Linked DNA regions of Homo sapiens. The protein of the gene in region 1 purifies or fractionates together with the protein of each later gene. This does not show direct contact. Each region holds a gene or a part of one and is shown in the gene's direction. Other genes may lie near its edges.

What was found.
Region 2: the proteins of IBSP (region 1) and PLXDC2 purify together in Homo sapiens (affinity purification with mass spectrometry; one large-scale study listed by BioGRID and IntAct). This does not show direct contact.
Region 3: the proteins of IBSP (region 1) and PSMG2 purify together in Homo sapiens (affinity purification with mass spectrometry; one large-scale study listed by BioGRID and IntAct). This does not show direct contact.
Region 4: the proteins of IBSP (region 1) and RSPRY1 purify together in Homo sapiens (affinity purification with mass spectrometry; one large-scale study listed by BioGRID and IntAct). This does not show direct contact.

Annotation. Positions count from the first base shown.
Region 1 is NC_000004.12:87,806,017-87,809,611, forward strand, and holds part of IBSP (integrin-binding sialoprotein precursor), read left to right. Parts: intron 1-105; coding exon 106-168; intron 169-3,595. UniProt on the Homo sapiens protein: Binds tightly to hydroxyapatite. Appears to form an integral part of the mineralized matrix. Probably important to cell-matrix interaction. Promotes adhesion and migration of various cells via the alpha-V/beta-3 integrin receptor (ITGAV:ITGB3).
Region 2 is NC_000010.11:19,822,847-19,826,441, forward strand, and holds part of PLXDC2 (plexin domain-containing protein 2 isoform 1 precursor), read left to right. Parts: intron 1-3,595. UniProt on the Homo sapiens protein: May play a role in tumor angiogenesis.
Region 3 is NC_000018.10:12,716,463-12,720,057, forward strand, and holds part of PSMG2 (proteasome assembly chaperone 2), read left to right. Parts: intron 1-2,054; coding exon 2,055-2,173; intron 2,174-3,595. UniProt on the Homo sapiens protein: Chaperone protein which promotes assembly of the 20S proteasome as part of a heterodimer with PSMG1.
Region 4 is NC_000016.10:57,210,329-57,213,828, forward strand, and holds part of RSPRY1 (RING finger and SPRY domain-containing protein 1 isoform 1 precursor), read left to right. Parts: intron 1-2,643; coding exon 2,644-2,770; intron 2,771-3,500.

The DNA of each region.
Region 1 (3,595 bases):
TATTTGTGTGTATTTTATTGTGATTCAATTAGCAGGAAATTTAAATTGCTGTTGAATATATTTGTACACAGATAAGAGTATACATACATGTGTATATATTTTTAGGGCAGTAGTGACTCATCCGAAGAAAATGGAGATGACAGTTCAGAAGAGGAGGAGGAAGAAGAGGTAAGGAATTTTGCAATCTTTTCGTAATAAAGCAGACAGCACAAGAAACAAATAGGAAACTAGTCTATTGCATTCTGGACTCAGCAAATAGCCATTGTCACTTTACTAACTGCCCATAATATCCTATTTTGGATAAGCAGAATTTTATTTAAATTAGGATCCACTAACATGACCTGTTTAAAACACTATTGCAGTTTGGGGTTGAAATTACTTACAAATGGTGCTCAAAACCAAAAATCTCTCCCTTTTAAGTAGAAGTAGTATAAAATCTGATAAAAAGCAACAGAAGTAGTATAAAATCTGATAAAAAGTAACAGATAGCATTACTTCTATTTAGGTGGATAGAACATGATGTTAGAAGACAAGTGAATAGTAATCCTAAACTCAGTGCAAGACTTGTTTTAAGGACTGAACTTTACAATTTAATTTACCAAGAGGGTAATATGTAAAAACCCGTATATCTCCTCTACAATATTATTGTGATTCATCAGCCTTTCATAACCCACAAAGTAGGGTTATTCTTTTTAAAAAAATTTCAGGCTTGTTGTGGTGGCTCATGCCTGTAATTCCAACACTCTGAGAGGCCAAGGCGGCCAGATCACTTGAGGTCAGGAGTTTGAGACCAGCCTAGCCAACATGGTGAAACCCTGTCTCTACTAAACATACAAAAATTAGCCAGGTGTGGTGGCATACACCTGTAATTCCTGTCACTCGGGAAGCTGAGACATGAGAATCACTTGAACCCGGAAGGTGGAGGTTGCAGTGAGCCAAGATCCTGTCACTGCACTCCAGTCTGCGCAACAGAGCAAGACTCTGTCACAGAAAAAAAAAACAAAAACAACAAAAAAAAATCATACGTCTTTTTGGGTAGTAATAAAATTCATAGGTATATAAATATCTTCCCATATAGTTTTACAGATTAGTGTAGTCCTGGGCTAAGAATCATCTACATGTCTTGGAAATTGTGCTACCATGTTTATAACTGATACTCTTGCCTAAGGAAACATACCAATTAGGATGCATCTTTCCCGCATAGTCAATTATAGCTACCACTGGTTTAGGAACCTTTTAAATTCAGCTTTTCTCAGGTGCTATTTATGAATGGACAATGATATTCAAAAATGGATCATGTATTAACAGCTGTCTTGAAAACAAAATGGTGTGGGAACTTGAAAGGTGACGAATCATTAGTTTGGTATATTTTTAACTATAAAAGTAACATTTCCCGTATCATAATTTATACTAACATCTTGAAGGAAGGCCTTACAAGAATGTTAAGCCAGTACCAGGAAAAATGCCACCCACTAAATCCCACAACATTTCTGCTGGAGTTCCACATAGCAATCTTACACAAGAACTAGGCTAAGGTTATCCATTTAGTTATAGCTATTTGCTGTACAGTGATTGTAAAATTGCCTTGTCAACTACATTTCCCAACTAGATTGCATAACTTTTGGGAGTGGCTCTTCGTTTGTTGTTGTGGTGGTTGAGGACTGAGGAAGACTAGGACTTCTTTGGGGACTCTGATGAAATCAAGTACACACAAAATTTTGCCAAGGATCTCTGAACATTTAAGGTCTTCCCAGAACGTGTCTGCAGACACCTCATGACCATAGGTTAAAATCCCTGCTTTGGGGAAGAGCCATGCTACTCAGTTTTATATCTCTTCATGCTGCCTAGCATAATTTCTTATACATATATGGTGCCCAGTACATATCTGGTGGTTTGGTTTTGAAACTTCAGAGGAATAAATGCAACAAACTTCATTCATTAAAAGTAGTAATGGAAAAGCGGGTAAACAAAACCAGAAGTCTTTCATCCTGAAGAGATTCTGAAACATCTTTTTTCCTCATTCTCTAAAATGTTATTAGCAATTTAGGTTAAATATAGAGTCCCCAGGGATTGTATTTGTATGAGGAGAATACTTAGGCATATTTTCTATTTGGTGATCACACATTTCCTTTTTCCACTCCTAAACTATTTAGTCTCATAAAATAAACTTTTTTTTTTTTTTTGAGACGGAGTCTCGCTCTGTTTCCCAGGCTGGAGTTCAGTGGCTTAATCTCAGCTCACTACAAGCTGCACCTCCCAGGTTCACGCCATTCTCCTGCCTCAGCCTCCCAAGTAGCTGGGACTACAGGCACCGGCCACCATGCCTGGCTAATTTTTTGTATTTTTAGTAGAGATGGGGTTTCACCATGTTAGCCAGGATGGTCTTGATCTCCTGACCTCGTGATCCGCCCGCCTCGGCCTCCCAAAGTGCTGGGATTACAGGAGTGAGCCACCGCGCCCAGACATAAAAGAAACTTTTATTGAAATATACATAATAAAATTATCCTAATTATACATCTCATTGAAATTTCAGAAATTGAACACGTAAGTGAAACTAGCACTCATATCAAAAAGCAGTGCGTGCCTTGTGTTCCATTCCACTCATTAACAAACCCCTACCAAAGGCAAGCAGTATTTTGACTCTTAATAGATTGACTTTGGCCTGTTTTTGTATATTATGAATGTAGGATCATACATGATTTACTCTTTGTGTGTCACTTCTTCACTCTCAAATTTAGAGATTCATCCATGTTGTTCTGTAGTTGTAGATCATTTATTCTCATTGTTAGTATTTCATTACGTGAATGTACCAAAATGTGTTATTCTTCTGTTGATGGGCACTTAAGTAGTTTCCAAGTTTGGGTGATTACAAAGTGCTGCTATGAACTTTCTAGAACTTATTCTGGTGAACATATACATATTCATTTCTCGAGGCCATTTCACCTAAAAGTGAAATTTCGGAGTCGAAATCTACTGAGGCATATATATTCAACCTTAGTAGATGGCAACCAGCTTTCCAAAACAGACGTACTCAGGTAAACTCTCACCATCCGTGTATGAGGGTTCCGGTTGCTCCACATTCTCACCAACACTTGCTTCTTTCAGTCTTGTTAGCCAATCTAGTGAGTTGATAATATCTTTGTAAGCGCAAATTAGTGCTATTTTTCTATCCAATAAAATTTGTGAAGCCTCATACCCATCAACAGTAACCTATTTTCCTATGTAACTCATGTGCAGCGGAACATCCTTAAATAAAGTATCTGGGAAAAGAAAAGGTGTAAGAGAAAATATAAAAGTTGGGATATTGGGCCTTTAGTTGTGACCCTACCACCAATAAACTGCTATCTATTTGACCTCATATGAGTCATATAAGCCAATCAGATTTTTCAACTGCAAATAGTATATTCTTCTACTCTGGGGATCTTTCTAAGGATGGTAGAATAAATTTCTCCTTCTACCTCTGAAACATCTGTTGGAATAAAGCATAAACATAAAACAATAAACAAACACATGGTGTTTTGGGGATATTTGACACAATTAGCTTGGAGACTGTTTGGGGTATACTCTGGTGGTATTGCAACCCTTCACTGAAATA
Region 2 (3,595 bases), on another chromosome or scaffold:
TTGATAGATAGGACTTTCAAAAAGTTTATTCCACTATTTTCCTATACTGCTAGTTTCTTTCTGGATGTTTACTTACTTTTTTTTTTTGAGACAGAGTCTCGCTGTTTCTCCCAGTCTGGAGTGCAGTGGCGCGATCTCAGCTCACTGCAAGCACCGCCTCCCAGGTTCACGCCATTCTCCTGCCTCAGCTTCCCAAGTAGCTGGGACTACAGGCACCCGCCACCACGCCCAGCTAATTTTTTGTATTTTTTAGTAGAGACGGGGTTTCACTGTGTTAGCCAGGATGGTCTCGATCTCCTGACCTCGTGATCAACCCACCTCAGCCTCCCAAAGTGCTGGGATGTTTACTTATGCTTTTAATTTAATATCTTAAAATATGATATACATATATATGTACATATGCATACATATATGGTGGTGGTGGTGTTTCATTTCACTGAAGATGAAGACTATTAAATAATTTTGGTTCTTTGTGGGATTCTTTTTGAATTAAACTGTTTTAGGCCTCATGTCACTAAACTATAATGAAGGAGGCTGTAAAAATATTGTCTCGGCTGGGCGTGGTGGCTCACACCTGTGATCCCAGCACTTTTTTGGGAGGTGGAGGTGGGTAGATCAAGAGGTCAGGAGATCAAGACCATCCTGGCCAACATGGTGAAACCCCGTCTTCCCTAAAAATAAAAAAAATTAGCCAGGCATGGTGGCATGCACCTGTAGTCCCAGCTACTCAGGAGGCTGAGGCAGGAGAATCGCTTGACCCGGGAGGTGGAGGTTGAGATTGCGCCACTGCACTCCAGCTGGGCGACAGAGCAAGACTTCATCTCAAAAAAAAAAAAATTCTCATAAAACTTGTTTTGAGGTGAGGTTCAGTGGCTCACACCTGTAATCCCAACACTTTGGGAGGCCGAGACAGGGGGATTGCTTGAGTCCACGATTTGGAGACCAGCCTGGGCAACATAGGGAAGAGACCTCATCTCTACAGTTTTTTTGTTTTGTTTTGTTTTGTTTTTAATTAGCTGTTCATGGTGGTGCACACCTGTAGTCCCAGCTACTTGGTAGGCTGAGGTGGGAGGATCACTTGAACCCAGGAGGTCAGGGCTGCAATGAGCTGTGATTACACCACTGCATTCCAGCCTGGCCAACAGAGTGTGACCCTGTCTCAAAAAGTAAAATAATAAAAAATCTTGCTGTGGGAGCTGTTACAGGGAAGCAGATGAGGATATTCTGCAATACATTTCACGGTGTCTGCTCCCCAAGATATTATGCCATGAGAAAATGAGAAAGAGAAAGAGACAGAGACAGGGTGAGAGACCTTATGTTTCAATAACAGACATAGTTCTTTTGAACTTGTTTGTGTCTTCTGGACATTATAAATAGTACCTAGGAGTTTTACCATTTAACTTTTGGTTTCTTGAAATCTCAGTGCAAGATTTGTGGCCCACCTCCAACAAGCATATAAACCTTCTGGCCTACATTTGTGTGCTAGCTTACCTATGTCTTCATCTTACCTTTTCTACCTTTTCTCACTTAAAATCTTGTTTGGTATTTGTTTTGGAGATGGGAAAAAAGCAAATAAAATTGAATCGCCATAATACATAAGGTTGTGTATCACTAAGTTGCTTTCCACTTTCTCTTAATCTGATGAATTCCAGCCCTTTGGCTTTATTCTGAGCACATTTTCCCAAAGCTGTAATTATCTCTGTAGAGTACTCCATTCTGAGAGGTCTTTCTTCACTGAGTTCACACAGGATATCTTCCCTCACTGCCTCCCACACAATGATTCTGTTAAGCTGAGGAAGTTACTAGAGAATGACAGGCTAAGTAGTGATGCTTTTATTAAGAAAGTTTCTTCCACTATTTATTGTGTTATACATTAACAGGATAATAGCTGACAAAAGATGAGAATATAAAATATTCCACATGTGTTTATAACCAGACAGTGAACTCATTTCATATTTATTGTTTGGTTTTATTTTCCTCTTTTTAATTAAAAAGGTGGTAAGCTGTGGAATGATGGTATAGATTTGTATATTTAAATAGAATTAGAGGTCTTGTCAGGGGCCTGTTTGGAATTAGCCTGTTAAGGATTACAGATCTGAACATGGGGTCAGACACTAAGTGACGTTACTGGATATCCAGACTTTTAAATCTCTTCTGTCAGAGGCCATCAAACCAGATCTAAGCGCTGGTACCTTTACCTTACCCTTCAAATTAAAATAGGCTGTCCTCACTCTTTCTGCTTGAGGCCTTATCATAGTTAGTGGTCTGTGAATTTTGTCAAGAGAGGGTCACAGGCCAAGATGCAGACTGACTTCCTTTTTACTTGTCTGGAATCTTATTACTCAGTTCCTCAATTATTTTTTACTCAATAATTGGACATTTTCCTTAGAATCCATGTTGTTCGAGGTCTCGTCCTGTAGGTAAGGTGTGTAGCTCATTGAGGCTTTGAGAATATGGAGAGAATGTTAAGAGTTTGCCCTATGGAAAAACTGCATAGGAATCCGAATATTTGAAAGTCAATTCTCTATGTATTCCTTGGAGTGTTCAGTGATACAAAAAGTCTAAATAAAACTGATATATTCTCTTTGAGTATGATGCTTGGTAAGTACACTCTGGTTCATTTTGCTTAGGATACTGTATTCTTGGGTCCAGCTGGAATATGGAACATTGAACATTCGATAATGTTTTTTGGGTAGTAGTTACAGATATCTGCTTACAGTAGCAACTGCTTACAGTAGTAACTCCTACCATTTTCTGTCTGAAACCATTATATGAACATCCAATAAAATATTTATTTCCCTAAAGCCTAAAAGGGAAGTAGGACAGGCAGAATTTATCATTTAGAGCATGAAATGTACCAATAATGATGAGTTTTAAGATGGGAAAGTATTTAAGGTACATTTCAGGTACTGCTCATGCTGAATCTATTATATCTATTTGCTGAATTCTTTCCAACATACAAACTTAGACTGTAGCTACCGCTGACCTAATGAACCTGGTTATTTATATGCTGTCTTTTTGTTCATTTGTCTGGTCAAAAGGGCCCACTCACCTTCCTGTGGGCATAGCTGGCGGGAGCAAGTCTGGTATTTCAGCTGACTTCTCCTTTTGGCTTTCTCTTCTCCTTCTCCTTTTGCTATCTTTTCTCTTCAATTCATTGAAAAATGTCTATATATAAATTACATAAATGCAATCTGCATTGCAAAATATCCCAATGAAAAGTATATATGAAATAATTTTTGGCAAACTGAGTCATGTTCTTAGTGGATATGGGTTCCTGTGATTTCAAGGAATGCTGTCCTGAACTTTTAATTTAAAAACATTCAACCTCCTAATTATTTTGCCAGTCCGTAGTTTTATGTTTAAGATTGCCCAAAATGTACTGCCTGTCCATAATTCTTTCAAGAATTATTGCTTCTGATATTAGCCATTTTAATTCTATTTACTATTTATATAGGTCCTGGGAATATACACCTTTGAATTTTTTGTTGTTGTCATTTAGCCCTTTAATTTGCTAATTCCAGGAAACAAAAATTGAACTAAGAGACATACCACTGTGTCTTTGCACTTTTTTTCTTGGTGCTTGTTTGGAGCA
Region 3 (3,595 bases), on another chromosome or scaffold:
GGCTCACTGCAAGCTCCACCTCCTGGGTTCACGCCACTCTCCTGCCTCAGCCTCCCGAGTAGCTGGGACTACAGGCGCCCACCATCACGCCCGGCTAATTTTTTTGTATTTTTAGTAGAGACGGGGTTTCACCGTGTTAGCCAGGATGGTCTCGATCTCCTGACCTTGTGATCTGCCCGCCTCAGCCTCCCAAAGTGCTGGGATTACAGGCGTGAGCCACCGTGCCTGGCCACAAGACTAATTTCAAAATAGCAAACATTTATTGAGCATTGATTCTTTGTGCTGATACTGTTCTAAGTACCTTATATTTATTACTTAATCCTCATGACAAACCTATAAGACAGATACTAATATTATCCTTATTTTTCAAAGGAAACACTGAAGTACAGAAAGATTAAGCAATTGCCTGACACATGATCTTAGGGAGGCAGGACCAGCACTCTAACCCAGGCAGCCTGGCTCCAGAGCTTGCCTTTTTTCTTTTACTTTTTTTTTTTTTTTTTTTTTTGAGACAGGGTGTCACTCCACCCAGGCTGGAGTGCAGTGGCACAACTATGGCTCACTACAGCCCTGACCTCCGAGGCTCAAATGATCCTCCCACCTCAGCCTCCTGAGTACCTGGGGCTACAGACGTGCACTACCATGTGTAATAATTTTTTTTTTTTTTGTAGTAACAGGGTCTCACTATATTGCCTAGGCTGGGCTTTAACTCCTGGGCTCAAGTAGTCTGCCCACCACGGCCTCCCAAAGTGTTGGGATTACAGGAGTGAGCCACCTTGCCTGTCCCAGAGCCTGCCTCTCTTAACTGCTGCACTAGACTACCTTCTTATTTTAAAAGTTAGCCTGCATTTCTCTTACCTGCATTTTAAATTTTATTGAGTAGTTATTTTATGAGCAGTCTTTGAAAAATTTTCATAAAGCGGGCTCCCCCTGAAATTTTATAACCCACATTCCAGATTTACCAGCTGTGAATGTCTTGCCACACCTACTTGATCTCTCGCTATGCGCGTACACAGTTTCCTTCTTCGAAACAATCCAGAAGTAGGCTAGCAATGGTCACCCCTACATACTTCCGCACACATCTTTCAAGAACAGGACACCATTACCACACCCAAGAAAACCAGCATTTAATGAATTTATTCAGGAGTATCATCCAACATACTCAAATTTCCACAGCTGTTCCGAAAGTATCCTTCAATTCTGGATCCATTGATGGTTCACAGGTTGTATTTGGCTGTTACATCTTTTTAGTTGTTATCCTTCAGAGTAAAACTGGCCTGCCCCTCTTTCTTTCTTTACAATATTGACTCCTTTGAGGAACCGGGGCTGGATGTGGAGCATTCTCCATTCATCTGATTGTTTCCATGTGACCAGATTCGGGTCACAAATTTCTGGCAAGAACCCTTCACAGATGACCATGTATTGGTTATTAGGTAACAATAGATTACTCAAGTAGAGAACTGGGAAATTGTCCTTTGTCCATCACAATAGATTTTTTTTGAAATCTAGATTCCTCATGATTCATTGATTTCTTTTCTTTTTCTTTTTTCTTTTTTTTTTTTTTTTGAGAAAGTTTCACTCGGTTCCCCCGGCTGGAGTGCAATGGCACAATCTCGGTTCACTGCAGCCTTCACCTCCTGGGTTCAAGTGATTCTCCTGTCTCAGCCTCCTGAGTAGCTGGGATTATAGGTGCCTGCCACCATGCCCCGCTGATTTTTTTATTTTTAGTAGAGATGGGGTTTTACCATGTTGGCCAGGCTGGTCTTGAACTCTTGACCTCAGGTGATCCGCCTGCCTCCCAAAGTGCTGGGACTACAGGCGTGAGCCACCATGCATGGCCATTGATTTCTTAATTATAAAGATACATTAGATAATTCATTGCTCTTTATCATTCACTTTCGGTTTAAGCACAGTAAGTGGATCTGAAAATAATTTCAGTATATATAAATTATATATCATTATCACATAAAGTTGATGAAATAGTATATAGAATGTTTGTATGCTCTAAGACTAACTTTTAGATTTTCTTTTTATTCTCTCAATGGTGTGCAAAGTATAAATCAAAGCCATTCTGTGAAAAACTGCTTTCCTGGGTGAAAAGCAGTGGCTGTGCCAGAGTCATTGTTCTTTCAAGCAGTCATTCATATCAGCGTAATGATCTGCAGCTTCGTAGGTATGTTTCTGCCTCTGGAAAGTTATTTTTGGTATGGTTTATACTATGATAATTTCTCTATTAAAAAGTTAAACTTTAAAAGCCACGTAGATCCTTACCTCTTCTTACTGGAGTTTAGAAAGAGGGGGGTAAGAGAAGGTCAGGAGATGGGAGGGAGTACAGTTAGGCAGATCTTTTCAGTTCCTGTGAGCTTAGTAGAGTTGGGGCATGGGGAAGACATCGTGTAGAGAGAGAGAGTTTGGGAACCATGTTTTTAGTGTTTCCCGTCACATACATGGCAACATCACAGAGCTCAGCTAATTGAAGAGAATAAGCAGAAAAGGTACTCAAGATTTATAAAGTTGCTAACTTTTGAAAGGTTAATATTTTCAGTTATTTCCATATGTTACCTTGAAAGATTAATATTTTCAGTTATTTCCATATATGCTACCATTTTTTAAAAAACATTTACTTTTTGTAGAGACAGGGTCTAGCTATGTTGCCCAGGCTGGTCTCGAATTCCCAGGCTCAAGCAGTCTGCCTGCCTCAGCCTCCCAAAGTATTGGGATTGCATGTGTGAGCCCCCCGCACCTGGCCACATGCAACCATTCGTATTTGCAGAAATCCACTTGCCTAAAGGGTAGCTCCCTGGCATGTCAGAGTGAGTTCTTAAATGTAAGACAGAGTATCCCAGAAATAGAACTATAAGCTATCATTACCACATAAAGTTGATAACATATCATATAGAATACTCTTATACTCTAAGATGTAGCTTTTATTTATTTATTTTTGAGACGGAGTCTTGCCCTGTCACCCAGGCTGGAGTGCAGTGGCATGGTCTCAGCTCACTGCAACCTCCACCTCCTGGATTCAAGCGATTCTCCTGCCTCAGCCTCCTGAGTAGCTGGGATTACAGGTACCTGCCGCCACGCCAGACTAATTTTTGTAATTTTAGTGGAGGCTGGGCTTCACTGTGTTGGCCAGGCTGGTCTCAAATTTCTGACCTCAGGTAATTCGCCTGCTGGGTCTCCCAAAATGCTGGGATTACAGGCATGAGTCACTGTGCCCGTCCCCAGGATGTAGCTTTTTTTTTTTTTCCTCTTTTTTTTTTTGAGACGGAGTCTTTCTCAGTTGCCCAGTTCTCAGTTGCCCAGGCTGGAGTGCAGTGGCGCAATCTCGAGTCACTGCAACCTCTGCCTCCTGGGTTCAAGCGGTTCTCCTGCCTCAGCCTCCCGAGTACTTGGGACTACAGGCGCATGCCACCACACCCGGCTAATTTTTTGTGTTTTTAGTAGAGACAGGATATTGGCCAGGCTGGTCTCGAACTCCTGACCTCAGGTGATTTGCCTGCCTGGGCCTCCCAAAGTGCTGGGATTACAGGCATGAGCCACCACGCCCGGCCCCAAGATGTAGCATTTAGATCATTTATTTTTTATTTTTTAT
Region 4 (3,500 bases), on another chromosome or scaffold:
CTTGGCTTCTCAAAGTGTTGGGATTATACGTGTAAGCCACTGTGCCCAGCCTAGGTTAAAATTTTTTAAATGTTAAAAATAGAAGCATTTAAGGCTGGGCGCGGTGGTTCACGCCTGTAATCCTAGCACTTTGGGAGGCTGAGGTGGGTGGATCACCTGAGGTCAGGAGTTCGAGACCAGCCTGAACAGCATGGTGAAACCCCGTCTCTACTAAAATACCCCGTCTCTACTAAAAATCAGCCGGGAGTGGTGGCAGGCACCTGTAATCCCAGTACTCAGGAGGCTGAGGCACGAGAATTGTTTGAACCTGGGAGGCAATGGTTGCAGTGAGCTGAGATTGTGCTACTGCACTCCAGCCTGGGCGACAAAGCGAAACTCTGTCTCAAAAAAAAAAAAAGAAGCATTTAGGTTGGGCGCAGTGGCTCACACTTGTAATCTCAACACTTTGGGAGGCCAAAGCAGGCAGATTGTTTGAGTCCAGGAGTTCAAGACCAGCCTGGCAACATGGTGAAACCCTGTTTCTACAAAAAAATCCAAAAGTTAACAGGGTAACGTGGTGCATGCCTATAGTCCCAGCTGCTCAGGAGGCTGAGGTGGGAGGATCACTTGCAATCTGGAGGTCGAGATTGCAGTGAGACAAGATGGCGTTATTGCACTCCAGCCTGGTTAAAAAAAGAAGTATTTGTATCTCAGGTGGCGATCTTTATTCAGAAGCTAGAAGAGAATGTTGAGTTGCTTCGCTGATTTTCTTATCTTTCTCTAAGCAATTTCCTCATAACAAAAGTTTTAAGAATGTTTTTTATTAAGAGGAAAAACTGGGCTGAATGTACTGGCTCATGCCTGTGATCCCTGCACTTTGGGAGACCAAGGCAGGAGGATCAGTTAAGCTCAGGAGTTTGATACCAGCCTGAACAACATAGTGAGACCTTGTCTCTGTTAAAAAAAAAAAAAAAAAAGAAAGCCAGGCACGGTGGCTCATGCCTGTAATCCCAACACTTTGGGAGGCCAAGGCAGACAGATCACTTGAGGTCAGGAGTTCAAGACCAGCCTGGCCAACATGGTGAAACCTCATCTCTACTAAAAATACAAAAATTAGCCAGCACGATGGCGTGCACCTGTAATCCCAGCTACTTAGGAGGCTGAGGCAGGAGAATCACTTGAACTCGGAAGGTGGAGGCTGCAGTGAGCTGAGATTGCACCACTGCACTTCAGCCTGGGCGACAGAGTGAGACTCCATCTCAACAACAACAACAAAAAAAAGTTAAAACTGAAAGCACTTTTGAATCTTACTCAAATGTATTAATGATTAGTGTAACATTGGTTATCCTTTACATAGAACAAAAGCATCGAACTTTCATTGCTTTCCCATGTGTTTTACAGAGTCCTTTTTTTTTTTCTTTTTTTCTTCTTTTGGATTCTGGCATCTTTCATTTTTAAGATGGAGTCTTGCTATGTTGCCCAGACTGGTCTCAAACTCCTGGGCTCAAGCATCCTCCCACCTTGGCCTCCCAAAGTGCTGGGATTACAGGCATGAGCCACTGTGCCCAGCCTCAATTCTGGCATTTTCATTCATCTGTTTAAGCCCAGTGCAGAAAAACATTGTGGACGGAAGGGGAAAGTCTTTAGCGTAGTCACCAATGAATTGACCTTTGCCTAGGCTTATAAGAGCTGCCTGTTTCAATTTGCCTTCAACTCTGTTGGGGCAGGGTGCAGTGGTTCATGCCTATAATCCCAAAACTTTTGGGGGCTGAAGCAGGAGGATCACTTAAGGCCAGGAGTTCAAGACCAGCCTGGGCAACATAATGAGATTCCCATCTCTACAGAAAATTAAAATTATCTGGGCACTGTGACATGTGCCGGTAGTCCCAGCTACGAGGGAGGCTGAAGTGGGAGGATCACTTGAGCCCAGGAGGTAAAGGCTACAGTGAGCCATGATCACTTCACTGCACAGCAGCCTGGGAAACAGAGCAAGAGCAAAAAGAAAAGAAGAAAACTCTGCTGGGATTTGTTTTTGCTTAGTAAAACTTTTTTTAAAGTAACTTTTTACTTCAACATCACCAGCCTTTAATGTTTTCATAATGGCATCTGAGTGGGTTTAATCTGTTTAGTGATTCAAGAATATGTAGCATATATTTGATACAACTTAAGCATTCTGAATGAAGTGGAATCTAGTAAGTCATGTAAGGAGACTTTCAGGTTGATCAGATATTTCCCATCAATGATATCATTAGGGTACATTGCATAATTTTTATATGGTCATTCTGAGTTTATTTAACACCTGGTTATAGCTCCCCCCACCCCCCTGAGACGGAGCCTTGCTCTGTCGTCCAGGCTGGAGTGCAGTGGCACGATCTCGGCTCACTGCAACCTCTACCTCCCAGGTTCAAGTGATTCTCCTGCCTAAGCCTCCTGAGTAGCTGGGATTACAGGCGCGCACCACCACACCTGGCTAATTTTTGTATTCTTAGTAGAGATGGGGTTTCACCATGTTGGCCAGGCTGGTGTCGAACTCTTGACCTTGTGGTCCGCCCGCCTCGGCCTCCCAAAGTGCTGGTTATAGCTTTTGTCTCAAAAAAAAAATGAGCCTGGGAAAACAACCTGTGTAGTATATGGGTCAAACCCACTTGTACTTTTTTGTTTTAGGATGCACTCCAGAAATTGACTGAAATTCTCAATTTAAATGGAGAAGTAGCTTGCCAGGACTCAAGCCATCCTGCCAAACACAGGAACACATCTGCAGTCCTAGGCTGCTTGGCCGAGAAACTAGCAGGTAACTTTGGGACACTCCACAGTGGAAGATCTTAAGTTGTTTGACATTAAAGGGAAATTTGTACTGTATGTCTTTGATCAAACTGCTATACCAGAAAGAAATCTCTTAAAAATGATATTGAGAGACATAGACTAACTGGAAGAAAATTACTGAAAGGCTACAGAGGTGAATGCAATTTAATTTAGCTTTGTGGATTTTCAGGGGAAATTTTAAAAGAAAAAAGTTGTGCTTATTTGCTTTAAGAATAAGGAGCGAGGAAAAGAAAAAAGGGAGAAAAGCTAAATTCAGCATAACAAAGATATGTATGTGTGTATACAATATATAATTTGCATATATACACACTTTATAAAGTTTAGCTCGATTATGAAGACATACAAGGTAGAGGGAGAGGAAAAGGAACTTCTGGTTGGAGCAGTTCCTGAGAAGCAGGTATTTAATTTGTTTATGAATGTTACCCATTTTAAGAAAGTTAACAGCAAAGTACAGGGGCATAGCTCAGCTACTTACATCACGTAATGTGGAAGAAACAATGGATTAGAAATCAGAACATGTGGCTACTGGTTTGGACTCTCCCATGTGCTTGCCAAGTGCCCTGGAGTTAGTTGCTTAATTCTGTGGGCTCACTTGCTTAACTGTGAAATGGAGCTAGTACTATTTTCTACCTCAGAGCAGGAGGCTTTAATAAGATAATGTGCATGAAAGAGTTCTACCAAAACAATTTGATTGTTAC